4 separate regions of the Homo sapiens genome follow, and all the other regions are reported to be linked to region 2. The links are microRNA targets in miRTarBase. Many come from high-throughput screens and were not tested one by one. Region 2 holds a microRNA gene; each other region holds the end of a gene's coding sequence.
The links. Region 2 holds the annotated microRNA hsa-miR-5706 (UUCUGGAUAACAUGCUGAAGCU, at 4,564-4,585, opposite strand). A microRNA usually pairs through its seed, bases 2 to 8, with sites in the 3' UTR of a target mRNA and lowers its output. Matches are read on the target gene's strand: a 7mer-m8 pairs with bases 2 to 8, a 7mer-A1 pairs with bases 2 to 7 and ends in A, and an 8mer does both.

Region 1: the mRNA of MYO18A is a reported target of hsa-miR-5706. Seed matches in the 3' UTR shown: 8mer at 2,522-2,529.
Region 3: the mRNA of B3GNT2 is a reported target of hsa-miR-5706. Seed matches in the 3' UTR shown: 7mer-A1 at 5,023-5,029.
Region 4: miRTarBase lists TMEM151A as a target of hsa-miR-5706. Seed matches in the 3' UTR shown: 7mer-A1 at 655-661.

Annotation. Positions count from the first base shown.
Region 1 is chr17:29,068,098-29,075,216 of GRCh38, reverse strand. MYO18A (myosin XVIIIA) reads left to right here. Exons shown (of 42, transcript NM_078471.4): 42 at 303-4,095. The coding sequence ends at 447. Among named protein-coding and RNA genes, the nearest start is that of PIPOX, 29 kb to the right of the region's middle.
Region 2 is chr5:119,152,112-119,159,230 of GRCh38, reverse strand. MIR5706 (microRNA 5706) reads right to left here and starts at 4,594; the gene lies at 4,515-4,594. The region is part of intron 19 of DMXL1 (Dmx like 1); the gene reads right to left.
Region 3 is chr2:62,222,206-62,229,324 of GRCh38, reverse strand. It overlaps B3GNT2 (UDP-GlcNAc:betaGal beta-1,3-N-acetylglucosaminyltransferase 2), which reads right to left. Exons shown (of 2, transcript NM_006577.6): 2 at 4,594-7,113. The coding sequence starts at 7,104. The coding sequence ends at 5,911. Among named protein-coding and RNA genes, the nearest start is that of MIR5192, 20 kb to the right of the region's middle.
Region 4 is chr11:66,295,281-66,302,397 of GRCh38, forward strand. TMEM151A (transmembrane protein 151A) reads left to right here. Exons shown (of 2, transcript NM_153266.4): 2 at 1-1,384. The coding sequence ends at 373. Among named protein-coding and RNA genes, the nearest start is that of TMEM151A, 6.9 kb to the left of the region's middle.

The sequences.
Region 1 (7,119 bases), not on the chromosome of region 2:
CCAGCGATTCAAGGTTTCTAAGAGGAAGGGCCCAGGAACCTGCATCAGATTCTTATGCACGCTTGAGTCCGAGACTCACTGCTCTCAGCATCCCTTTCCTCGGAGCTTTAAAAGCTTCCAGAGTCTCCTTCCTCTTAGCATTTTGAGTATCTTCTAAGTAAGCCAAGGAAGGTTTTTACTTAACAATGTTTGGCTTTTGGGGAGTGCTCTGACGCAGCTTTGTGGGCCTCCAGAACCAAAGGCGTGCGTGCTTAATGGTAGGAGTGTCATTTGTCCCTAACCTTATTCCTCGGTCCCTGCAGCCCCACCAGCTACTGGAAGTCCCTTGCCCCTGATCGGTCAGATGATGAGCACGACCCTCTCGACAACACCTCCAGACCGCGATACTCCCACAGTTATCTGAGTGACAGCGACACAGAGGCCAAGCTGACGGAGACTAACGCATAGCCCAGGGGAGTGGTTGGCAGCCCTCTCACCCCAGGGCCTGTGGCTGCCTGGGCACCTCTCCCAGGAAGTGGTGGGGCACCGGTCTCCCCCACCCGACTGCTGATCTGCATGGGAAACACCCTGACCTTCTTCTGTCAGGGGCACTTTCCAGGCTATGGGTGTCTGATGTCTCCACGTGGAAGAGGTGGGGGAAAGAGGAGTTTCTGAAGAGAACTTTTTGCTCCTCTGTCTCAAAATGCCAGACTCTTGGCTTCTACCCTGTGTCACCGTGGGCAGTGGCAGGTGGCCTGGCACTGCATGGAGCCAGCACGTTGACCTCCCTCTCAGCTCCCTGCTCAGGGACGGTGGACAGGTTGCCTACTGGGACACTCTAGGTTGCTGGGTCCATGGGGAGGATTGGGGGAGGAGAAGCAGTGCCTTCCCTCTCGTGTGGGGTGGGGGCTCTCTCTTCTTGGTGCCTGCTGTCTTTCTACTTTTTAATTTAAATACCCAACCTCTCCATCACAGCTGCATCCCTGAGAGTGGGAGGGGGCTGTAGTGGTAGCTGGGGCTCCCAAGAACGACTCGGGAATGTCATCTCCATCTTCACCCTTCAGAGAGCAGTCCTTTCTCTGTGCAGCTGGAGACGCTGGTGAGGAGAGCCGGGTCCAGGTTCTTAAGAATGAGGTGCGGAGGGGCTCTCCGGTGCTGCTGGGCTGGGTTGAGCAAGCCTACGCAGACAAGTGTGTGTGTGGACCATCCGCACCTCCAGCCCCCACCCCACCCTCTTTGTCTCAGCGTGTTATGTGCAATGACCTATTTAAGGTAAACCCATTCCAACTACAGCAGTTCAGGGCTGATCCAAGCACTGCCTCCCTCCTGCTCTGTCCAGGTGGTCTGGACCATAAACTCAACTTGAGAGGGAAGGCTTGGGGTTGAGGACTTGTGATCAGAAAAACTGAAGATGGAAGTTTTGGCCGGTGCTCATTAGACATGAGTCCTCACTCTGTGTCCTGAGCCCGTGTCATTCTTCCAACCTCCCTGCCCCCACACACTTATCCCAGACACAACACCATGTGGTCTGGAGGTCCCAGCCCCCACCCTAAAAAGGTTATCCCTGAGAACTCCACCAGACTTGGGAGCCCAAGTGCAGTGCCTGGTGCTGCTCCCATCTGCCGCCCCCCTTCTCTCCTGCAATTGGTTTGTACTCACTGGGCTGTGCTCTCCCCTGTTTACCCGATGTATGGAAATAAAGGCCCTTTTCCTCCTGGCTGCGCCAGTTTTCCTGCCTGTTCCTTCAGGCTCAGGCAAAGTCTGGATTGGTCCTGGGGGTGGTGGGCAGAGGCAGGATTCTGATGGGGACCGTGAGGGCATCACCCTGGTCTCTGGCCTGCTCCCCAAAGTGTCAGACCAGTGCCACTTAAAGAGCCTAGGCAGCTCATTTTGGGGCAGGCAGAGGTAGTGGAATGAGGGGATTGGCCAAGGAAGACACAAGCCCCACCTTTTATGTGAAGAGCCTAGGGACTGTGATTCAGGTTAGCAAGGGTGGCAGAGACTCCAAGCCTCATCCTCCCTAGCCTCCACAAGGGAATGTTGAGGTCCCTCTGATTGTTAAATCTCACCAATTACAGAGATTCTCTTCTCTTCTCTTCTCTTCCTCCTTCCGTCCCTCCCTCTCTCCCTCTCTCTCTCTCTTTCTTTCTTTCATTCTCTTTCTTTTTGGATTCAAGCCCTTCTCATTAGAACATTTTTTAAAAGCTTAATTTTAGCCATTTCAAAGGTGACTTTTTGATCAAAACTTGGCAGAACTAGCTCGGGCCCACAGGGCAATGTGAATAGGTTGGGAGTGCTGTCTCTGCCCTGCTCGGTCCCTGTCTTCATGCCCTACTCCATGCTTTGTTCCTTCATTGACAGCTAAGAGGCAGCTCATGCAGAAAGGCAAGAAACAAATGACACCCCTCCTCCTCTTCTACCTTCTACCTTCTCATTCTGTAGTGTGGCCAGTTATAATCCCTGAATGAATAAAGTAGTTTGGACAGATGGGTGGGAAAAAATAGCAAACAGCCCAAGTGCCGAGGCTCTGATAATGTCAGCCATCCAGAAAGAGTCCAAAAGGGAAGAAGGGAGAAAAGTCTCCCCCAAAATGAATGGGACAGAGTGTGAAGTGGATCTGTCTCGAACAGAGACTGCCCCCTCCATTGCCCCACGATAGAACAGAGAAGAGGATAGAAACAATAGTAAAAGGGAAGTTACTTGTCTTTTGGAGACAGAGTCTTGCTATGTCGCCCAAGCTGGAATGCAGTGGCATGATCTCAACTCACTGCAACCTCTACCTCCCGAGGTTCAAGCGATTCTCCTGCCTAAACCCTCCGAGTAGCTGGGACTTAACAGACGTGTACCACCACGCCTGGCTAATTTTTGTATTTTTAATAGAGACGGGGTTTCGCCATGTTGAGCAGGCTGGTCTCGAACTTCTGACCTCAAGTGATCTGCCTGCCTCGCCTCCCAAAGTGCTAGGATTATAGGCATGAGCCACTGTGCCTGGCCTAAGTTACTTTTTTTTACAAAAAAAAAAAAAAAAAAAAAAAGGCTGCTAGCTTATGTTCAGTTCTGTCACTCTCATCTTTTATTCCTGTTTTCACATAGCGTGGTACATTTTCTGTTTCTACTAGGGACTAGTGTGACAAACTCCCTGCCACCTTTAGATGAATTCCCAAATCTGTTCACTCATACTGAGTCAAGCCTCTGGTTAACTGGAAACTCCAACATCAACCTCCAATAACCCGGCCTGGGGTAAAAAGCTTTGTTCAAGTCAGAAAACATATTCATTTGCTTAACAGTTGAGAAATATTTCATGACTGCCTGCTGTGCCTAGGCCCCATTCTGGGTGCTGGTGATGGATAAGGTCCCTTCCTTCATAAAGTGGAGGAAGGTAGACACAAAATACATGCTGCACCTGCTAGTATGCATAAGCTTAGAGTGGGTAGAGAGGAACACATCATAGTATCCATCCTCCAGGGTTTTGCGGACGAGGGCTGGAGCAGACCCATGTGGAAATAATTACATAAGACCTAACAAGGATGAAGAGGTTGCTTTGGACATACTATGGAGGGAGATGCTCTCTTTGGCGGGGAGGATTGGGAAAGCCTCTAAAAGGAGCTGCTATTTTGACCAGGGCTTGAAAATAGCACTTCCACAGGTACAGTTGCTGGGAAAGGCATATTGAGAAGAAGAAGAGTTTAAGTAAAGGTCCTGGGGCAGGGAAAGAGAGGTGCTGGTAGAACATGCCACAGGCTGGCTGTGCATTGTCACATGACCAGTGCTTCTCCAAGTTTCAGTTGAGAAGGAGACAATTCCCTTGGCCCCAGAGGAGTCCAGGAGCCTTTAGGGCCACCAAAGCCCATCTTTATTTTGGGTGTACCTTGAAGGCTCTGCTGTTGACCTTACCTGTACACTCATGGTACCTCTGGTCCCTAAGATGTTGCAGAAGGCAAATCTGGCCCTTTGCCAGGCTCAAAGCCAGCCTGCTAGATCCTCCTCTATAACTGCAGATCCCCGGGATTGCTCTGACTCCTGAATAAGCATGGGCGGGAACCAGTGCCCCTGTGGGACTCCCCATGGTGCCCAGTCTGTGCCCAGAAAATAAAGTGGCAGGCAGTGACCCCTAAATGGTCTTCTTTTGTCTTTGTGTCTCCTTGGCAGATTATCCCAGTTGTCCTTGCCCCATCCTCCACCCACTTGCCTGGTGGCAAAGACACTTAGCGATTTGCTCCTTAATTGTCCCCCAGCTAGGCTGCGCAGATGCCGCTCTTTAATCTCTCCTGATAAATGAATCGCGCCGCTCCTTTAATCATATGTTCATATCCAAGCCAATTTGAATCAATTTGGCAGGGAGCGTGTTGCAAGAGATGCCATGACTGCTGTTTCTTCCCCAGGGCCCTGGAGCCAGAGCGGCTGCTGTCCTTACCCTCAGCAAAGAGCCCAGGAGGCCCATCCAGGGAAAGGATCGCCTACCTGAATAGTGGGGACTTTTCAAAGTCTTCTAATTCATTCCTGACCTCCAAGCTGGCCGTGTGGGACTGGAGGGAAATGGATTCCCAAAGGCCTCGGAAGTGGGAGGGGGATGAGTCCCTAGCCTGCCTTGGTCACTGAATGAAGGGCCCCATTATCATCCCTGGGAGAAAGTACTGCCTTAAATCTAACCCTAATCCCTTCTGTTCCCCGTTCATTTCCACTGCACCGGTTCTCTGGGAAGCTGGAACACTTCGTCACCTTTTATATAGCAACACATTCCAGACAAGTCTATGATAATTTGTCCTTGCCTGCTTCTACTGGCGGCCACCCTGACTCCTTCCATCTTCTCCTAGGACATATTTTCTAAAACCTCCAGCCTGGTGGGCAGTCCGACACGTTCGGTAATGTACCAAGCTCTGCCGCCTTTCAGGCTGCTGCCTTTTCACCTCCAGAGTGGTGCCCCCGTGCAGTAATGAAAACAAAGCAAAAATAGACAAAACCTGCCAAACTGAGTTCTTCTGCGTCTAGCACTGCGACCTTGGAGAAGGGGCTTAACCTGTCAGGCCTCAGTTTCCCCATCTGTGAAACAAGGTAGTATTGCTGGCAAGAACCTTCTGGCTTCTAAATTCAGAGCTCCTTACCACAGCCAAAAGAATCTCCCACGCCCTCCCCCTTCATCCCCCCTAGTGAGGGACTGACAGTTGATGCCCAGTGGGGCTTCGAGATCCGGGTGCTGTGGAAGAAACGTTGTGCATGGTCTGTCGGGAGTTAGTTTCCATTCAGACACTCGGTTGAACCTCGAGGTCCTCTCATTTCCTCTTCTTCCCTAGCCCGCTCTGCCAGTCCAGGCTTGTGCCCTACCATTCACTGGGAAACCGAGAGCTCGTTAGCATATTCATATATATATTTGCATATCCACTTTTCATTGGCGCACGTGGCCCTCTGGTCCCGCCCCTGCCTGGAGGTTCTTTACGCACTTCCCAGAAGCCACTCCCCTTAAAAGAAATGGGTTTTCAAGCCGCCGATGGGCAGCCCATCTGTGTTGCCCTTTTAATGATTACAGCGGCATTAGGACAGGTCTACTCTCCGAGCAACCCGGAAATAATGTTTCCCGCCCTTTTAAGGGCCCTTGGAACTCTGGCCTGAGCTGAGGCCCAGAGTCAGTGACTGGGACTGACAGGCCCCTTCCTACCCTGTCAGTAGTGAGAGGAGGGTAATAAGAGCAATAATTGGCCGGGTGCGGTGGCTTACGCCTGTAATCCCAGTACTTTTGGGAGGCCGAGGAGGGTGGATCACCTGAGGTCAGGAGTTCAAGACCAGCCTGGCCAACATGGTGAAACCCCATCTCAACTAAAAACAATACAAAAATTAGCCGTGCGTGGTGGCAGGCACCTGTAATCCCAGCTACTTGGGGGGCTGAGGCAGGAGAATCGCTTGAACCCGGGAGGCAGAGGTTGCAGTGAGCCAAGATCGTGTCATTGCACTCTGGCCTAGGGGACAAGAGAGAGACTTCATCTCAAAAAAAAAAAAAAAGGACCAACAACAGTTCCCATTTGTTGAGCACTTACTATGATGACCCCAGCGCTTAAGCACTTTGCCCTACAAAATCTCATTTCACCTCCATCACAACTCTGTGAAGACGTCATCCTGGAAAGAAAACTGAGGCTGAGGGGTGATGTCATCTTTCTAAGCAGAGTCCTCAACTTGCTTCCAGCAGCTGGCCAGGCGTCTCCTAACTATTCTGGCCTTGGCAGAGGATGCAGTGAGAGGCAAGAAAGCAAAGAATCACTACCATGGTCCTCATCTCAAATCGCGTGTGCCTGGCATTCGCCAAGTCCTGGCCTCAGAAAGGAAACGCTTCTTGGCAATTTGGGGGGAAAATATCTACTTCACATTTGCGTCGCGCTTCACAATTTTCAGAGCATCCCCCATATATTATCACATTTTCACTTCACTCCCACTGTGCCAGCAATATGAATAACAGTTCCACATCGCTCAGAATGCATATTTTAAGCTATATTCACTTCAGTCTAATTTCATTACAGTACAACAACAATCCAGACCATTCCCTGCTATTTGATCTGGGAGGAAAGATTTCCAGAGCAGTAGCCATTTTGGAGTTAACAAGGATACTGGATGTGTTTAGAAGGAATTGTACAGAGAAATTGAGTCTTCTGTAGCGTGAGCCCCAGAGATGGGTCATAAACATAAGGGAGATTCCAAAAAGAGTGTGTGCTTTGCGACTGAAGTCAGTCACATAAATCCCCCAGTGGAATACTTATATGTGCAGATAGAATTTGCTGTAGATATCAAAAGTCAGCTATGACAGTTTTAGAAGAAAAGAAAATTCAAAAAGGATATTACGTTTTGACACTATCCAGCCAAATTATATTTGAAGTGGCTTAAGAGTCAAAGAGTTTCCACATTTTAAGAAATTTTTATATGTTTTGTGCCACATCTATGATCTGACTAGATTAGGAAAAGCAGCAAATGGATTTGGGAAAGAGAGGACACTAGGGAATTTGAAAATGGAAATTTAAAAAAAAAAGGAGTTAAGGCTGAGGTGGGTGGATCACCTGGAGTCAGGAGTTCGAGACCAGCCTGGCCAAGATGGTGAAACCCCCTCTCTACTAAAAATACAAAAATTAGGCCGGGCACGGTGGCTCACGCCTGTAATCC
Region 2 (7,119 bases):
AAACCCGGGGGCAGAAGTTGCAGTGAGCCGAGATTGCACCACTGCACTCCAGCGTTGGGTGACAGAAGCGAGACTCTGTCTCAAAGAAAAAAAAAAAGTCTCCCATCAACCCATCAAAACAAAAGCCTAGAATCTGATCGCATCACCGGTGAATTCTACTAAACATTTAAAGAAAAACTAACACCAATCCTTCTTGAACTCCTCCGAAGAACAGAAAGGAAAGAAAAGTTCCTCTTTTTATGAGACCAGGATTTCCCTTATGCCAATGCCAGGCAAAATGAATTAAAAAAAATTATAGGCCATTATCCCTGATAAATACAAATGTAAAACCCCCCACAAAATACCAGCAAACCAAATTAACAGCACAATAAAAGGATCACCCACTGTGATCAAGTAGGAATTATGCCATGGGTTCAAGATTAGCTCAACATGTGCAAATTAACTGATGTCATTCTGTTCATATTAACAAAATTAAGGACAAAACCATATGATCCTCTCAACTGATGCAAAAAAAGCATCTGATAAAATTCGACATCCTTTCATGACAAAAACTCTCCCAAATTAGGTGTAGAAGGAATGTTCCTCAACACAACAAAGGCCATAAATGACAAGCCCAGAGCTAAACATCATACCCAACAGTGACAATTCAAAAGCTTTTCCTCTAAGATCAGAAAGAGGACAAGGATGCACTCTCTCACAACTTCTACTCAATTATGATAGTACTAGAAGTCCCTGCCAGAGCATTTAGACAAGAGAAAGAAATAAAAAGGCATCCAAATAGGAAATAAAGAAGTGAAAATGTCACTGTTTGCTAACAACACAATCTTACATACAGAAAACACATAAGACTCCACCAAAGAAACAGTTAGAACTAATAAACAACTACATTAAACATGAAGGATACAAAATTAAAATGCAAAAAGCAGTGGCATTTCCATACAGTAACAACAAATTATCTGATCTGATTTTAAAAATAAACAAAACAATCTCATTAATCATTGCTACTTAAAAAAAAAAAAAAAAAACCTTAGAAATATATCGGCCAGGCCGGTGGCTCACATCTGTAATCCTAGCACTTTGGGAGGCCAGGGTGGGAGGATCATTTGAGCTCAGGAGTTTAAGAAAAGCCTGGGCAACACAGCAAGACCCCATCTCATTAAAAACAAAAATTTAACCAAGGAGATAAAAGAGCTCTAAAATAAAAACTATAAAATATTGATGAAAGAAATTTGAAGACACAAATAAATGGTAAGATATCCAGTGTTCACAGATTGGAAAAATTAATTTGTTAAATTTTTAATTTGTTAAAATGTCCAAACTATCCAAAATGATCTACAGATTCAACGCAATCTCTATCAAAATACTGATGTCATTTTTCACAGAAATAGAAGAAAAAAACCCTAAAATTCATTAGGAATACCAAGAAACACCAAATACTCAAAGTAAACTTGAGATGAAAGAACAAACCTAGAGACATCACACTACCTGATTTCAAACTATATTACAAAGCTAGGGTAACCAAAATAGCATGATACTGGTGTAAAAACAGAAACAGACCAATGGAACAGAATAGAAGGCACGGAAATCAACCCATACATTTATACTCAATTGATTTTTGTCAAACGTGCCAGGAACACACAATGGGAAAGGATAGTTTCTTCAAAAAATGGTGCTGGGAAAACTAGATAACCACATGCAGAAGAATGAAATTGGACCATTATCTTACACCATATACAAAAATAGGTCAAAATGGATTAAATACTTAAGCATAAGACCTGCATTGTAAAACTACTAGAGGAAAACACAGAGGGAAAACTACATGTCATCAGTCTGGGCAATGATTTTTTTGGATATCACACCAAAGGGACGGGCAACAAAAGCAAAAATGAACAAATGGGATGACATCAAACTGAAAATGTCTGCATAGCAAAGAATACAATTAGCAGAGTGAAGAGAAAAGCCGTGGATTGGGAAATAATATCTGCAATCTGTATATCTGATAAGGAGTTAATATCCAAAATATATCAAGAACTCAAGTAACCCAATAGCAAGAAAACAACTCAATTAAAAAATAGGCATGCCAGGCACAAGTGGTGCACACCTGTAGACCCAGCTATTTGAGAGGCTGAGGCAGGAGGATGGCTTGAGGCCAGGAGTTTGACTCCAGCCTGGGCAACAGAGTAAGACCCTCAACTCTTGGGGGAAAAAAAAAAAAACCAGAGGGGATAAATGAACTGAACAGATATTTCTCAAATGAAGACATATGAATGTCCAACAGATAAATGAAAAAAGCGCTTGATATCTATAATCATCAGGAAAATGCAAATTAAAGCCATAATGAGATAACAACTCACACCTGCTAGAATGTCTATTATCAGAAAGAGAAAAAAACAAACAGTTTTCATAAAGAAGTGGCGAAAAGGGGAGCCTGGTACACTGCTAATGGGAACATAAATTAGTACAGCCATTATGGAAGAGGGTATGAAGGTTCCTCAAATATCTAAAAATATTCTGGGACAATGTTTTATTAAAAGAGAAGAAAAGAAAAGAAATTTTAACTAAAAAAAAAAAGAAAAAATTTAAAAACAAAATTACCACATGATCCACCAATCCCACTTATGTGTATATAGTCAAAGGATGTGAAATCAGTATGTTGAAGAGATAGCTGCACTCCAATGTTAAGTGAAGTTTTCTTCACAATAGTTTAGTTATCAATTCAACCTAAGTATCCATCAATAAATTAATAAAGAAAATATCGTATATATAGGCAGACCTTGGAGATACCATGGGTTCGATTTCAGACCACCACAATAAAGCAAATATTGCAATAAAATGAGTAACACAATTTTTTGTTTCCCAGTGCATATACAAGCTATGGTTACATCATACTGTGGTCTATTAACTGTGCAATAGCGTTATGTCTAAAATGAGTGTACATACCTTAATTAAAAAATACATCATTGCTAAAACATAACAATCACCTGAGCCTTAAGCAAGTCATAATTTTTGCTGATGGAGAATCTTGCCTTGATGTTACCGGCTGCTGACTGATCAGGGTAGAGGTTACTGAAGGCTGGGATGGCTATAGCAATTTCTTAAAATAAGGCAACAATGAAGTGTGCCACATAGATGGACTCTTCCTTTTATGTAAGATTTCTCTATACCATGTAATTCTATTTGATAGAATTTAGAACTTCTTTCAAAATTGGAGTCAGTCCTCTCAAACCCTGCCAATGCTCTATCAACTAAGTTTACAGACTATTCTAAATCCTTTGTTGTCATTTCAACCATGTTCACTGCATCTTCACCAGGAATAGATTCCACCTTAAGAAACCACATTCATTGCTCATCCTTTAAGAAGCAACTCCTCATCTGCTGAAGTTTTGTTTTTTTTTTTTTTTTTTGAGACAGGGTCTCCTCCTGTTGCCCAGGCTGGAGTGCAGTGGTGTGATCATAGCTCGTTGCAGTCTTGACCTCCTGGACTCAAGTGATATTCCTATTCAGCTCCCTGAATAGCTAGGACTACAGGCACGTAACACTAAACCTACCTAAATTTTTTTCAGAGATGGCGTCTATGTTGCCCAGGCTGATCCTAAACTCCTGGCCTTAAGCGATCCTCCCACCTCAATATCCCAAAGTGTTGAGATTACAGGGATGAGCCATCGTGCCTGGCTCTGCTGAAGTTTTACCCTGAGATTGCAGCAATTCAGTCACATATTCAGGTTCTACTTTTAATTCTAGTTCCCCTGCTATTTCTACCGTATCTGCAATTACTTCCTCTACTGAAGTCTTGAACCTCTCAAAGTCATCTGTGAAGGCTGGAATCAACTTCTTCCAAACTCTTGTTAATGTTGATATTTTGACCTCCTCCCATGAATTACACATGTCCCCAATGGCATCTAGAATGGTGAAGCCTTTCCAGTGGTTTTCAATTTACTTTGTCCAGATCCATCAGAGGAATAATTATCTATAGCAGCTATAGCCTTATGAAATGTATTTCTTAAATGATAAGACTTAAAAGTTGGAGGCATTCTTTGATTCATGGACTGCAAAATGAATGTTGTGTTAGCAGGCATAAAAACTATATTAATCTCCTTGTACACCTGCATCAGAGCTCTTGCGTGAACAGGTCACTGTCAATAACAGCAATATTTCGAAAGGAAATCTTTCTTCTCAACAGAAGGTCTCAATAGTAGGCTGCAAATATTCAGTAAATTATGCTATAAACAGAGGTGCTGCCATTGGGCTTTGCTATTCCATGTGTAGAGCGCAGGCAGAATAGGTTTCACATAATTCTTAAACACTCTAGGATTTTCAGAATGGTAAATGGGCATTGGCTTCAACTTAGTTACCAGCTGCATTAGCCCCTAACAAGAGTCAGTCTGTTCTTTGAAGCCAGGCACTGACTGCTCTCTAACTACGAAAGTCCTAGATGGCATCTTCTTCCAACAGAAGGCTGTTCCATGTACTTTAAAAATCTGTCCTTTTGTGTAGCCACCTTCATCCATTATCTTAGCTAGATCCTCTGGAAAACATGCTGAAGCAAGTGCTGAATGACGTAGAAGCTTCAGCATGTTATCCAGAAGACCTAGCTTCACCTTGTACTTGTAGTTTACGGAGAAAGCTCCTTTCCTTAAACCTCATGGACCAACCTCTGCTAGCTTCAAACTTTAATTGTGCAGCTTCCTCACTTCTCTCAGCTTTCATGAAATTAAGACGAGTTACAGCCTTGTTCTGGATTAGGCTTTGGCATAAGAGAATCTTGTGGCTAGTTCGATCCATCTAGACCACTCAAACTTTCTCCACATAAGCAATAAGGCTACCTTGCTTTCTTATCATTTATGTGTTCAATGGAGAACGTTTAGTTTCCTTTGGACCTTGTCCTTTGCATTTACAATTTGGTAAACTGTTTGGCACAAGAGGCTTAGCTTTCAGCCTATCTCGGCTTTCAACATGCCTTCCTTACTAAGCTTAGTCCTTTCTAGCTTTTGATTTAAAGGGAGAGATATGCAGCTCTTCCTTTCACTTGAACACTTAGAAGACATTGTAGGGTTGTTAAACTGTCCTAATTTCTATATTGTTATGTCTCAGTGAATAGGGAGGTCTGAGCAGAGGGAGAAATACAGGGGAATGGCTGATCAGTGTTGTAGCCACAGTACACACAACATTTATTGATTAAATTCATTGTCCTACATAGGCGCAGTTCATGGCACTCCAAAACCATTATAATAGTAACAAAGATCACTGATCACAGATGACAGAAAAAGTTTGAAATATTGTGAGAATTACCAAAATGAGACACAGAGACATGAAGTGAACACATGCTGTTGGAAAAACGGTGCTGAAAGACTTGCTCAACAAACGGTTGCCACAAAGCTTCAATTTGTAAAAACTGCTGTATTTGCAAAATGCAACCTAGCAGAACACAATAAAAAGGAGTATGCCTGTATATACACTGGAGTACCAGTCAGCCTTAAAAAACGAAATCTTGTCATTTGCAACAACATGGATGAACCTGGAGAACATTACAGTAAGTGAAATAAGCCAGTCATAGACAAATATTGCATGATCTCACTTATCTGTGGAATCGAATACAATTGAAATCAAAGAAACAGAGAATAAACGGTATTTGCCCAAGGCTGGGGACAGGATGAGAAGGGAGACATTGGTCAAAGGGTAAAAAGTTTCAGTTAGGAGGAATACATTTTTGATATCTACTGCACAGCATGGTAGCTACCTTTAATAATAGTGTATTGTATATTTCAATATTGCTAAGAGAGTACATTTCAAATATTCTTACCACAAATATTTTACATATCTGAGGTGATGGATATGTTTAGTTTGACTTAATCATTCCACTTTGTATACATATATCAGAACATTACTTTGTACCCTATAAATACATACAATTTTAATGTGCTAAATTACAATCTAAAAATTTTAAAGAGAATTTGGCCTGGCAAGATGGCTCACGCCCATAATGCCCAGCACTTTGGGAGGCCGAGGCAGGTGGATTGCTTGAGGTCAGGAGTTCAAGACTAGCCTGGCCAATATGGTGAAACCCCATCTCTATTAAAAATACAAAAATTAGCCAGGCGTGGTGGTGTGCGCCTGTAGTCCCAGGTATTCGAGAGGCTGAGGCAGGAGAATCAGTTGAACCCAGGAAATGGAGGTTGCAGTGTGCGGAAATCACACCACTGTACTCCAGCCTGGGTGACAGAGCAAGACTCTATCTCAAAAAAGAAAAAAAAAAAACTAAAAAGAATTTGATTTAGAATTTTCAACTTTACTTTTTTCAAAGCTATATGCAAAATGAGAAAAAGAAAATAGTGAGAGAAACAAAGAGACAGAGACATAAGGTACGAGCAAGAGACTGAGACCAAGGAGCAGAGGCTAAAAGGCTAAACTGCAAAGTCCCAATAACACTTTTTAAACCTATAGTTCCAATAATGCTGAAAGTCAGCTCTATTTCTTGAACTTCCCGGGAGATGAGCCAAAAAACATGCTGTTTTGTTTAAGTGAACTTAAGTGAGATTTCTCTTACTTTGAACTCTCTAAGACAATGTTATTTTCTGGTACCTACAATAATCGTTTAATAAGAATCTATTACGTTATGCTAAGACAGTTCAAAGTCTAAGATAGTTCAAAGTAAGAGAACTAACAGTATCTGAAATACAGCACTAAATATAGAATACATGAAATATACTAAACTAATATCTGAAATACATATTTTATCAGTAGTTTTAAGTGTGGGTAAATTTACACTTTCAATATTCTGTACTCTGTGAAATATTTAAAATTTGAGAATGTATTATAACACAAATGTTATTCAATGTTTGGTGGAAAAACTGAATTTAGATAAATGTCAAAAAAAAGGAGAGAAAAGACAATCTAAAGAAGAAATTAAAGAAAATGAAACAATACTAATTTGCCTTGAACATATCATGCATTTAAAAACATAACACAGAACATCTCCAGTATGTTTCTTCATTAACTCCTTTTGCCTACCATTAAAAATTCCAATGTTTTAAGCAAAGATTATGACAAAATAAACATTTTAACAAATAAAGGAAACTTAAAATATGTTAAATATGTCATCATTATCATTTTTGGGTAAAA
Region 3 (7,119 bases), not on the chromosome of region 2:
ACCAACTCTTCAAGACTCAAATGCACACGCACATGCGCACACGCAAACACACAGGTTAAGTGCACGTGAGCTCAGATGCTTACCTGCTAAGGAATGCTCCCTAAACTGAAGGGGAGGTAGAGGGTTCAGGTTGAAGCAGCTGAGTAGAATACCGCGAAACAGACCCAGAGCAAAGGGAAGAAAGGCAGCTCCAAGATCTGGGGTCAAGTCTACCTGCCCCCAACCTGCTCAGTCCCTGAAAGGAAGCCAGGACATACGTCCATACAGTGACCCTCACCCAGCCTTCCAGTGTAGGAAGTGGCCTTGTGGGTAAACAGCCCAGAAAAAGAAACACCTCCTAGGAACTTCTACAAATCAGTTCAGTCCTGCATTAAAGGACCAAGCATCACTTAGTATTTGTTCTTCTCCATAAGAATTAGGGTGAACAACTCACCTAATCCCTGAGATAAGAATTGTAAAAAAAAAAAAAAAAAACTCTAATTCATTTTCTTATACACAGTCCTTACATCCATGAAGAACAGGCTCCTATGGAAAGAGGAGCAATCAGAGAACAAACTGTTTCAGAAATTTTTTAAAGAAAAAAAGAGGGCCAAAATAAAAAATTTCTAGAGGGCGGGTAGAATCATCATGACTTAAAACCAAATTGGCTTTGTAGTGGAGTGATGGTTCCGGCAGAATTCTACAATCTACTAAGGCCAGACATGGTGGCTCTTGCCTGTAATCCTAGCACTTTGGGAGGCCAAGGCGGGCAGATGACTAGAGGGCAGGAGTTCAAGACCAGCCTGACCAACATGGTGAAACTCCATCTCTACTAAAAATACAAAAATTAGCTGGACGGGTGGCACATGCCTGTAATCTCAGCTACTTGGGAGGCTGAGCCAGGAGAATTGCTTAAACCCAGGAGGCAGAGGTTGCAGTGAGCTGGGATTGCACCATTACACTCTAGCCTGGGCAACAGAGAGAGACTCCGTCTTAAAAAATAGAAATAAAAAGTAGTTCAGGCCGGGCGCGGTGACTCACGCCTGTAATCCCAGCACTTTGCTGAGGCCGAGGTGGGTGGATCACCTGAGGTCAGGAGTTCAAGACCAGCCTGGCCAACATGGCAAAACCCTGTCTCTATTGAAAATACAAAAACTAGCTGGGCACAGTGATGGGCGCCTGTAATCCCAGCTATTCGGGAGGCTGAGGCGGGGAATTGCTTCATCCTGGGAGATGGAGGTTGCAGTGAGCCAAGATCACGCCACTAATTGCGCCCACTTCATCCTGGGCAACAGAGCTAGACTCCATCTCAAAAAAAAAAAAAAAAGTTCAGCTCCTTCAAGCCTCAGACAGGTGCGTTCTGAGGCATGCATTCTGCACTGTTTTCCAGATTCCCTGTGGGGTTGAGCTCCAATCCCACAGTGGCAGTGGCTTCACACTCCTCATCTGCTGCCTTCCAAGGGCCACTTCCTGCTGAACTTTGTGCCTGCACTTCCACCAAAGCCTACCTGAGCTAGAATCCCTGTCTTAAAGTCTGTTTTCTGGAAAAACCCAAACCAAGGATAGGATAATGTTTATTTTGTACTTGAGATACTTTTTAAAGAGGTGGTGGAAGTTGGTGCCCAGTAGAATAGCTAGGAAAGCCAACTTCAGGAAGGCCTGGGGTGATGAGCAGGAAGAGAGGATGTGAGTTGAAGACAGGCTGGGAAAGGGCGAGTCACAGGATGGTAGGTTTCCAAGGCAGTGAGGTGAGCCCTTGCTAACACTTACGATGCAAGTTCTCCATGTGGCTTATTGCTTGAGGAGCATCAAAGGCCCACCCTCCAATCCCGTGTGGGTCAGCTGTCAGGAAGCTGCAAACACTTTGTTCAACTGCCAGGCCCCTGACTTAGAAATAAGCCCTTGGATTACAATCAAATTAAAACTACTCTCGCTGCTTCAGTGCAGTTAACACATCCCCTTTCACCATGCACAACAGCCAAGAAGAAAGCAACTGACAAAGCTCAAAAGCCACCAGGGTTGGTTGGGATGAGAATTCATAAACACAGGTCAAAGTGACAGAAGCAGGAAATGCACCTGAACAGGACTCTTTTTTTTTTCTTTTTTGAGATGGAGTCTCGCTCTGTCGCCCAGGCTGGAGTGCAGTGGTGTGATCTCAGCTCACTGCAACCTCCGCCTCCTGGGTTCAAACCATTCTCCTGCCTCAGCCTCCCGAGTAGCTGGAATTACAGGTGCCGCCACCACGCCCGGCTAATTTTTTGTAATTTTAGTAGAGATGCAGTTTCACCATGTTGGCCAGGCTGGTCTCGAACTCCTGACCTCATGATCCGCCTGCCTCGGCCTCCCAAAGTGCTGGGATTACAGGCGTAAGCCACCGCACCCGGCCTAGGACTCCATCTTTCAATTTAAGGGTTTAAAAAAATATATAAAGACTCATGCTGTATTTCAATTATTCTAATATGTAATATTTAAGATGTCACATTTTAATATCTCTAACTGAGGCACAACTGATAAAAAATCATATTGGCAGTGCTTTTAGTGTATACAAAGTTGCGCATTTACAACAAATACGGTAATTCATATCATGTGAGCAAACGAGATTTTTAGGGCTCTTTAAAGACAGAAGTCCCTCATTCTTGGCCTCTACAAGATATAATGGTATTAAGGGCAAAACTTTTTTAGTGTATTACTTTGAGAACTTCATGAGTCAGAATACTTCAGTTTTTCAGATTAATGCAAACAAAGTTCAGTTCAAAAAATCTTATTTGGCAAATGTTTCTAGCAATTGGATTTACATTAAGGAAAACCTAATTTCATAGCCTCAATAGCCCAGCATGTAAAGTATGTATTTTCCTGTTCTAGGCAAGAAACAAGAATTTTCACTTCATCTGGCATTTTTCATCAGAAGGCAAATCACGGGGAAGTTAAACTTTGGCCCAACTGAAGGCTTCATTCATTTCAGCTTCCCATCCTTTCCATTAGTAAAGTCACCCTCCCTTTTTGCATCTGAGAAAGTCAAGATGACCCGGGACATCAAATATTCCGCATCACCACCAATCAGGTGTGGACAAGTAGGAGATGGCCCACTTTGGGTGTCTTTAATTCTTGACTCAATTTCCAAGTGTAACAAAGCACTCCCCCAATTTCCTGTTCTTCTTTCCAGCCTCTCTTGACCATCTCAAGAAAGGACATGGGTATAACCAGGATCAGGAAGGGGAATGAGCCATTCTTGTCTCTTGCATCCTTTTTTTAAGACCTGCTTGGGTTTTTGAATAGTCCAAACCCTGGCAATGCTTTCAGCCTTTTTGACCTTCAAACTCAAAATCAACATGACTTGGGAATAGCCAAGAAAAGGGCCCAAAATACCAGTTTCCCTTGAGGCCTAATTGTTAAACAGTTCTCAAAGAATAAGTTAGACTTACAGCAGTTCCATCCGTGAGATGGGGGATCAGGTGAGAACCCATATTGTGGGCACCAAGAGAGGCCTTCCTGGATTTAAGGGTTTGCGCCATAACAGAGCCCAAGCATGCGTAAAGCTCTAAAACCTAACGTGCTCTGCTAAAAAGCCCATGAGGTCCATCTCACAGGGCAGCAATGACCAGTGTGGTGGGCTTGGGCAGCCATTGCACAAGAACTTCTGCCAAATGAAGAAGGGCCAGAGATCATCTCATCCAAATGTCATCAGCACCAAGAACTCATGTTCAAACAACAGCACACATGTGGACTGAAGGCTCACAAAAGGCCCCCCAGTGGCCCTCCACACCTCATTCAAAACCTGCTCCATCTCTTCTTTCTCTACAAGAGACTTGAAACCTCAGAGAAGGGGAATCTCTAACAAGAAAAAAAATTGAAATTCCTCTGAGAGGAGAAACCTATTACCTGAGAATGCGTGGTCAGGTTTTTTGGACAAATGCAAATGTGATCCAATTACCTGTGAATGTTCTCAGAGCTTCTTTTCTTCTTTACTCTTCTCTAGCCATAATGTGGCAATATGGCCCTCTGGGAGGTGTGTGCTAGCAGCCATGGGAGTAGAAGGCAGATGCAGGCCCCAGGAAACCTTCAGGAAGACCAGGCTGAAAACAGTCTTCAATCTCAAATCAAGCACCTGTGTCCTCATACTTGCTCAGAAATGGCTTCCACATTCCAAACAGGATTAGACTGTTTGCTCTTACAACACTAACCCTTCTGTTTTTTGAGCTTCATCAATTGTCTACTTGTTTCCCACTGGACGTTAGTAGTGTCTTCTCAACATGGGTCTATGAAAGGAAATTGAGTAGTCAAGGCTGATTCTATATTTCATCTTTGTGGCTACAAACTCCAAAATAGAAATGGCTTAGGATAACACAATCTTTACAATGCCACACCACTCCCTAATTAAATTATTTATACTCACTGAAAATGGAAGCATAAATAAATATTCTCACTTTTCTTTAAAGACTTTAAATGGGAAAGCACTTTGGGGATTTTAAATGCAAAGATGGATGACGCACTGAGAGACAGTGATAGTTCAACACTACTGTAATGGTTTCTGGGGAGGAAACTGGCCTCTTTCAGGGAAAAATGTTCTCAAATATGGGAAACAAAAGGATTATAGATTACACATTACACAAAAAATTAAAAATACAGTGGCTTTATTTCCATTGTTTATAGTCCCCAGTATCCCATCTGATAAGAACCTTCAATTCTATAAACAAAAATATTTCAAGAAAGTATGTTACACAATAGTACATATAAGTAATAGTTTGGCAGAATTTTAAACTCTAGTAGTTCATACCCCCAAAAAACAAATTTTAAAATTCAAAAATAACAGTTTTATTTAACATATGTTACACCTTAACATTTAAAATATCATGCTCTAGTTAAATATTTCATCAACAACACTGTATACAAATAAAATATTACATAAAATATATTTAAGAAAATGTTTTGGTCTTTGATCTGAACAATAAATAAAAACACAGGCACTTCTACATAGACAGGGAAGCAGTTACTACTCAATAATAATCTTGTATAAGCAGCATGTGAAAATATGGCAATAATAAATTCTGGAATTTTAAATTGACAAACCATCTATGCAAAAGTCTGTAACTTCAACCTTTTCACTCAAGTTCAAAATACATATGCCTTCCTGGTCCATATTGAAAATTCACTAACACGATATGGTTGTTAGCGGCAATTCAATCTTCAGTTGGCCATTAAGGAATCACACTGATTTTCAAATACTAAAATTACACTATGATACCACCAGGAAACCAAATACAAGAAAAATTAAACCCTCTTTCTCCTTATTATGACCATAACATCACAACAAGATAAATTAGATGAGTGTCACACCATGATTCTCATTTTGCAAAATTAATTAACACACAAAAATACTGTTGGGGTGGCAGGAAATTTCCACAATTGAAAAACTGAATTCCACAACTGACAACTGAAATTTCAGTTTTCTAGACAATTTAAAATTTACCCAAATCCCATAAAAATAAACATAATTCCATTTCACGAAAACCACTGGATAATGTTTAACAAAGTCTTTGTAGCCAATAGGTTTATAAATACCTGAATTACAAATAAATCAGTCATTATTATGGGAAGTAGGAATATTATAGAAGAGGGCAAACAAAATCACTTAAAATGGCCAAATTCCAGAAACAGGATTTCAGATAAGAGGGTACAAGTTTTTTAAAAATGACCACTAGCCGGTAAGATCAGAACCAATCATCCTGCCATATCATCCATAAAAAAAAATTACCATCTTCCGCTTTCCCTCTTCACGTGAGTACCAAATTGAAGGGTTTAGAGGCCCTCAAATGGGTATCACTCATAAAGGCAATTTTCATGGTTTAATATAGAAATTACTCTAATGTGAGAACACAACATGGGAACTATTCAAAATACACCTTTCTATGCAAAATTGAGTTTGTATCTATTTTAGCATTTTAAATGAGCACTCTGCAACTGAGACCAAATATCAATCATCTCTTGAGGTTTTCTACTATGTACTAACATCAGATCTACATAGGAGCAGATGTTATTTTTGTTTTTCTCCTCGATATCAAATGTCCTGAAGCCTTTGTGTTTCTCTGGAACGAGGCCGAGTTTCTGAAGGCACATTCCAGTATAAACGTCATCAATGGGGTAGAGATGGACCTGGTCAGTGATATGGTACAGCCTCAGGGCCAGGTGGCCGGAGTAGAGGAACCCCCCTCCCCCTGCATAGGGTGGGTAGAGGCCAGAGTAAACAACTTCTGGGATGTAGTACTTCAGCTTCTTATCCCGATGAGGTCCAGCATTGTGGATCACATCACCTATGAAGAGATCTTTGGCTTTGGTCTTGGATAAACTATTCAAGTAATTCAGGATGTGATGGGTGTTCACAAAAACATCGTCATCGCCCTTGAAAACAAACTCAGTGTCTGGGCAGGAAGTACTTACCCACCTGAGAAACAGCACTTCCTTCAGAGACAAGTTGAAGAAAGTGTCTCTGTAGTTCCACATAAGAATGTCTTGGTGCTTCTCACTCTCAAATTTCAGCATATCTGAAAGGTCGGGGTGGTTGTCCTCTGGGGGTGTCTGGCCCAGCAGGAAGACTCGCACCACCGTTTGGTTCCCTGCGTTGCTTTCTTGGCCCCAGGATTCCCGGATTGCTTGCCTTCTGGCAAAATGTGGAGTGAGGGACTTAATCGCCAGCAACAAGAAAGGTTTCTTTGCACACTTATCCGGCTGATCTATAAGCAGTGAATAATTGCGGCATCTCAAATACAGCAGAAAGTCTTTAAATCTGTCCGGCAAGTTGTTAAAACCCGTAACCACCGACGTGACCCTCAGGTCAGGTTCGCAGTAGTTCAGATGGCTTATATTGGAGAGCCTGCCCGCCTCCCCCGTCTGGTTGGTCAGCATGCTCAGGATGGGGTTGTACTGCCGGTTCAGCTTCTCTTGCTCTCGGTTCCAGTATGCCTCGGGAGGGGTAGATATCTTCCAGAACTTCTCTTTGGGTATTATTACTTCCCCTTTTCCATTTTTTTCTTGGCTACTGCTTTTGGAGACTTCCATAATAAAATAAATGAAGACATTTGCCATCATCAGGATACCCAACAACTTTATTCTTCGACGTCCAACACTCATTTCTCATATCTGGAA
Region 4 (7,117 bases), not on the chromosome of region 2:
GCTCGAGTGGCACATCTGCTCCAACCGGCAGCTGGTGCCCAGCTACTCGGAGGCCGTGGTCATGGGCGCGGGCTCGGGCGCCTACCTCAGAGGCTGCCAGCGCTGCCGCCGCTCTGTCAGCAGCAACTCGCTGCCCCCCGCCCGGCCCAGCGGGCCCCGCCTGCCCTTCAGCCGCAGCCGCCTCTCGCTGGGCGCTGGCGGCCGGGCCACGCCAGGGGTCTTCCGCAGCCTGAGCGGGGGGCCGCTGGGGCGCCGTGGAGAGGACACGGAACCCCTGGAGAGCCCGCCCTGCTATGAGGACGCCCTCTACTTCCCGGTGCTCATTGTCCACGGAGACAGCGGCTGCCAGGGGGATGGGCAGGGTGCTCTCTGAGACCCCCCACGGCCCCCAGAGTGGCCCCCTCCCCACCATTCCACCATGGGCTTAGATGCCCGAGTGATTGTTGTCCAAAACAGGCGGGAAAACAGACCAGCCACACACAAGGGGCAGGGGTGAGGGTGGGGGTGGGGGTCCTTAAACAGACTAAAATGCAGTTACCTGTGGTCATTTTGGAGGAAGTGGAAGCCTAAGAATCGCCCCCAGCATGGCTTCATCCCCCAAGATGGCCGATGATCTGGCCTGAAGGCCTCTCACAAAGGGCAGGAGAAGAAGCTTCCAGAAAGGCTGGGATGGAGGAGGAGTCCTGCGGCCAGCTGTTGCCTGCAGCAGAGGCTGCCTGTGGACACTTCCCTACCGGGGCTGAGGCCATGCTGGGAGCCCCCCCAGTGACGCAGAAGCACAAATTGGAGGCTTGGGGCCATGCCCAGCCAGGTTGGCTTCCCTGGGGCTGAAGAGCTGGCTGTGGTGGCACCATGGCCTTGGCCCTGCTACTCACCCAACATTCCCATCCTCCCCTGATAGGCCCCTCCTCCTTGCCTGCCCTCTCTCCCGCTGCTCAGGGCCAGTCACTCCCCCCACATGCAGCTACCCCTACAACCTGGGGTTCCTTCTCAGGGCCTCACCTGGTCCCCACATCCCCTGGCCTCTGCTCCTGCCTCCCAAAGTCCATGTCTGCCTCCATCAGCCACACACACGCAGGGACGCCCGTTCCTTGCCCTCCCGGACTTATCTACTCTTCACTTTCCTGATGATCCATGGGGCCCAGGCCTAGAGGGCATCCGAGGGGCTGGGCCTTGGCCACAGCCTCTTGGATGATGTCCTTGCTCCACCACGCAGGCCCTTGCTTCTCCCATCAACGAGTCTTGGCCCAGGGGACACTGACCCTCCCCCAGGGAGGAGAGAGGAGTTCCTTCCCTTTCAACGAGGGCTTCCACGCCCTCTAAGGGGTGGCGGGGAAGGGAGGAGGCTGAGAAGATGCAGATTAAATAAAGGTATGGAATGGAAGGCCTGTGCATTCCTGGGTCATGGGTCTAAGGCCTCCACTGCAAGCATTATGGGCCCCCATGGTTCAGGGCACGATGAGGGGTTCTGGGAAGGGACTCAGAATTGGGCTCCAGTGTTCCCAGGAACCAAGTAAGCAGAGGAGAGGAAACCTCCCCTGCCTAGCCTGGGGCCTCTGAGACTCAAGTGTGAGGCGCTCTGAGCACCTGGCTCCCCTGACTCCGGTATCTGGGCCTGGGTCACTGCTAAGGCATTGTCAAGGTGGCCCTTGTTCCAGCTCAGTGGGACATTCCACTCTGCTGCTGGGCATGCCGAGGGCTAAGGGAGTGGTGGCCGGTCCCCAAAGTGGGGAGAAAGAGCTATGGTCTGTGACTCGAATTCGGTGCCCCCCCAGCGGCTACTGACATTATCAATCTGAGGGAAAGGGCATGAAGCAGGTCAGAAGACACAAAGCTGGAAAGGGCAGCCCCAAACCAGGGCAGGCTGGCATGGAATCCAAAGGCAGAGAAAACATCAGGGAAAAGGAAGGTCCTGACTCCCTGATGGAGCTCTGAAAGATTCCTGGACGTGGCATTGTCACATGTGCAGCAGTAAAGGGTGTTCACTGTGCAAGGGCAGTGGGCTAAGGGGCAAGCGTGCATGGAATCCAGCCTACAGGCCACTCCCCAAACTCTGGCATGGAGCTACATCCACTTGGAGAAAGGGGACCGTTTTCCTTTTCACGCAAAGGTGGCTTAAGGGCTAGTGGTGGCCCGGGAAGTGTGCTGAGAATGGGTGGATTTCACTAAGCAAAGACATGGCAAGCAATGTCTTGGACAGCCGATGCTGCCCAGACAAAGGCCTGGTTGTCGGGCATGAGCTGAGGTGTGACAAGGAGATAGAAGCAAGAAGCCATGGAAGGCTTTGCTGCAGCTTCCATGCCAAACCCTAGAATTTGTCCTTAAACTGGAGCAAACTGGGCAATCTGGAACCATGGAAGGGGGTTGGGCAGGGACGTGATACAGTCAAGGCTGCATTTTAGGATATTTAGCAAAAGTCCAGCGACCTGCTGGCTCTGTCGGGAGGGTGGAGTGAAAGACCAGAGTTCTCCCTGTGCGTTAACCCACAGCCTCTCTTCTTTGGGTGTGAAATCAGTTCCTCGTTCAGAAGCAAATTAGGTGGAAAACCCTGTGGTGCCCAAACATTCAACAAGGCTGCAGGGGGTGGCCAGGCACAGTGGCTCATGCCTGTAATTCCAGCACTTTCGGAGGCCGGGGCAGACAGATCATTTGAGGTCAGGAGTTTGAGATCAGCCTGGCCAACATGGTGAGACACCCCCCACCCCCGTCTTTACAAAAAATACAAAAATTAGCTGGGTGTGGTGGCGGGCACCTGTGACAGCTACTCAGGAGGCTGAGGCAGGAGAATCGCTTGAACCCGAGAGGCAGAGGATGCAGTGAGCTGAAATTGCGCCACTGCACTCCACCTGAGACTGTCAAAAAAAAAAAAAAAAAAAAAGGCTCCAGCAGGTAGGGAGGCCAGCATGCTGGTTTCAGCTCCTTGCCATGGGAAAGACCCTTTTTCCACCATTCTGCTCTAACACCATAGCCAACAACTGCCCACTGGCCACTCACTGTCCATTCTCCTCCCTTCCCCAATAACAGAACCCCAGTTTTGCTGCAGAAGGCAATGTGCCCAGCTAAAGGGCAACATTTCCAGCCTCCCTGGCATATATGGTATGACTGTGTGGCTGAATTCTAGGATATTAGATATAAACAGAAGGTGCTGGAAGGGATCTCCAAGAATGCCCCTTGAATAGAAGCAGTATTGATGAAGGCCATTTTTGTCCTCTCTGCTTCAGCCTGCATTCAGCCTTGGATGCATATGTGATAGCTGGAACGCCAGCAGCCATCTTGGAGCAGGAAATGACCTTGAAAATTGTAGCCACAGGCTGGGCGCGGTGGCTCATGTCTGTAATCCCAGCACTTTGGGAGGCCAAGGCGGGCGGATCTCGAGGTCAGGAGATCGAGACCATCCTGGCTAACACGGTGAAACCCTGTCTCTACTAAAAATACAAAAAATTAGCCAGGCGAGGTGGCAGGCGCCTGTAGTCCCAGCTACTTGGGAGGCTGAGGCAGGAGAATGGCATGAACCCGGGAGGCGGAGCTTGCAGTGAGCCGAGACTGCGCCACTGCACTCCAGCCTGGGCGACAGAGCAAGACTCCGTCTCAAAAAAAGAAAAGAAAAAGAAAATTGTAGCCACATGCTGAAGACAGCAGAGCAACAAGGGAAAAGATCCTGGGCTTCTGATGACACCATGCAAGTTTCCATGTCATCCCTTGGGTCGCCTACCTCCAGACTTCAATGAGAAAGAGAAATAAACTGTAAGTCTGCTTAAGCCCATTGCTTTTTTTTTTTGTCTCTGTTACCAGCAGCTTTTACCAATTATCTACTGCCACATAACAAATTATCCTAACCCTAGTGGCTTAAAAGAGCAATAATTATTATGCTCTCTCCTGGCTTCTGTGGGTCAAGAACTCAGATAGGACACAATGGGGATGGCTTCTATGCTCCACGACATCCAGGGCCTCTGCTGGAAGACTCAAAAGCTGGGGCTTGAATCATCTGAATGCTCATTCACTCACATGTCTGGCAGTTGATGCTGGCTGAGGGCTGAGGGCTGAGAGCCTAACTAGGGCTGTTGGTGGGAACACCCACACAGGTCCTCTCCAAGCGGCTTGACCTTCCTCATAACATGGTGGCTAGGTTCCAAGAACAAGTATACTGAGAGGGTGAAAGCTGTATTGCACTTTGTGATCTAGCCTCCTAAGTCACATGGCATCACTTCTGCCCCTTTCCATCGGTCAAGGCTACTATGAAGGTCCACTCAGTTTCAAGGGGAGGGAATATAGGATCTCATCTCTCTGTGGAGGCTTGTCAATGTCACATTGTTAGAAAAGCATGCGGGATGGGAGATATATTAGTGGTCATCTTCAAAAATGCAATCAACTGCTGAGCCAAATGCCATTTGCCATTCCTAACTGATTGATACCTGTAAAGTGATCTGCAAAATGAACACCAAGCTCTTTATAGTGCTGGTTTAAGGAAGGAAGGTGGTGGCATGTCAGATATGGGCCTGCTCAGGGCAAAGTGAGCTGCTCAGATCATTTATGGGGACCTTCAGGCCTATGGTAGATTAAATATGGCCACAAATTCTTTGCCACTCCTCTCCTCAAGAGGTGGAATCAGGCCGGGCACGGTGGCTCACGCCTGTAATCCCAGCACTTTGGGAGGCCAAGGCAGGTGGATCACTTGAGGTCAGGAGTTCAAGACCAGCCTGGCCAGCATGGTGAAACCCCAACTCTACTAAAAATACAAAAATTAGCTGGGCGTGGTGGTGTGCACCTGTAGTCCCAGCTACCTAGGAAGCTGAGACAGGAGAATCACTTGAACCCAGGAGGCAGAGGTTGCAGTGAGCTGAGATCACGCCACTGCACTCCAGGCTGGGCAACAGAGCAAGGCTCCATCTCACAAAAAAAAAAAAAAAAAAGAAAAGAAAAGAAGTGGAATCTGTTCGCCCTTTAAATCTGGGCTGGACTTGTGATTTGCTGTGACTGATTGGATGTGAGGGAAGAGATGTTGGCCCACTTCTGAGGCTAGGCCTCAAGGACTCTCGCAGCTTCCACCTTTGCCCTCTTGCAATCCTGAGACCACCATCTGTAAAGATGTCCAGCCAAGCCTCCTGACAGATTTGAGGCTGCGTGGAGAACTGAGGCCCCCAGCCAAGAGCCAGCATCAGCTCCAGATATGGGATGACAGAGGCCATCTTAGACACTGTAGCCCCACTTGAGCCGCAGATGACAGGAGCCTCAGGAGTGACCCAAGGTGAGACCAGCAGATGAACTACCAAGCTGATCCCAGCCCAGACTGCTGTCCTATAGAATGAGGGGAAATAAATCCTTGTTTTAATCCACTACATTTTGGAGTGATTTGTTACATGTTACATGATCACTGTCACAAGGCTCTAAACCCACCTGCACCTCATGAGGGAGGGCACTGGGCCTGCACAGCCAGGAAGAGGAGGGACCCAGAAGCCCCATTGTTTGATGGACAGCTCTCAGCTCACAATCTCCTGATGGGAGATGGGGTGGCCACGTGTTCAGACTCTCTTGGAGTCAACATCAAGCCAAGGTGTTCTGTTCTAAACCGTTCTCAAGAGAAGAATTCATGCCTGAGAAGGGGTGCAAAGCCTGGCTCCCAAACCCCAGCGGCCTCTGCCTCTGCTCTCTCCTGACATAGGCTACCCACAGCATGGCAGGAACAGAACCTGTAATTTCCACCCCTACCACCATCTGCTCCTCTCTGTCTTCCATCTCAGGAAATAGAGCTACCATTCAGCCAGTTGCCTAAGCCAGGCACCAGCACGGCAAGCCTCTTCTTTTTTTTTTTTTTTTTTGAGATGGAGTCTCACTCTGTCGCCCAGGCTGGAGTGCAGTGGCCAATCTCAGCTCACTGCAAGCTCCGCCTCCCGGGTTCATGTTCATGCCATTCTCCTGCCTCAGCCTCCCGAATAGCTGGGACTATGGGTGCCCGCCACCATGCCCGGCTAATTTTTTGTATTTTTAGTGAGACAGGGTTTCACTGTGTTAGTGTTAGCCAGGATAGTCTCGATCTCCTGACCTTGTGATCTGCCCGCCTTGGCCTCCCAAAGTGCTGGGATTACAGGCATGAGCCACCGCGCCCAGCCGCCTCTTTTTTTTTTTTTTTTGAGATGGAGTCTCGCTGTCACCCGGGCTGGAGTGCAGAGGCGTGATCTCAGCTCACTGCAACCTCCGCCTCCCGGGTTCAAGTGATTCTCCTGCCTCAGCCTCCTGAGTAGCTGAGATTACAGGCACATGCCACCATGCCTGGCTAATTTTTGTATTTTTAGTAGAGACGAGGTTTCACCATGTTGGTCAGGCTGGTCTCAAACTGCTGACCTCGTGATCCGCCCACCTCAGCCCCTCAAAGTGCTGAGATTACAGGCGTGAGCCACCCCGCCCGGCTGTCTCTTCTTTTTTTGAGACCGAGCCTCGCTCTGTTGCCCAGGCTGGAGTGCTGTGGCGCAATCTCCGTTCACTGCAGCAACCTCCGCCTCCAGGGTTCAAGCGATTCTCCAGCCTCAGCCTCCCGAGTAGCTGGGATTACAGGCACCCGCTGCCACGCCCATCTAATTTTTGTATTTTTAGTAGAGATGAGGTTTCTGCATGTCGGCCAGGCTGGTCTTGAACTCCTAACCTCAGGTGATCTGCCTGCCTCAGCCTCCCAAAGTGCTGGGATTACAGGCATGAGCCACCACGCCTGGCCTGTTCTTTCTTTAAAACTTTGTATTATGTAAAATTTCAGCTTGTAATCCCAGCACTTTGGGAGGCTGAGGTGAGAGGATCACTTGAGCTTGGGAGTTTGAAACCAGCCTGGGCAAGATAGTGAGAGCCCATCTCTACCAAAAAGTTAACAATTGGCCAGGTGTGTTGGAGCTCACCTGTAGTTCCAGCTACTCAGAAGGCTGAGGTGGGAGGATCGCTTGAGCTGGGAGGTCAAGAGGTCAAGGCTGCAGTGAGCCGTGATTGTGCCACTGCACTCCAACTTGGGTGACACAGCAAGACTCTAGTCTCAAAAATAAAATAAAATATCTTTCTTTCTTTTTTTTTTTGTTTTTTGTTTTTAGACAGAGTCTCGCTCTGTCACCCAGGCTGGAGTGCAATGGTGCAGTCTTGG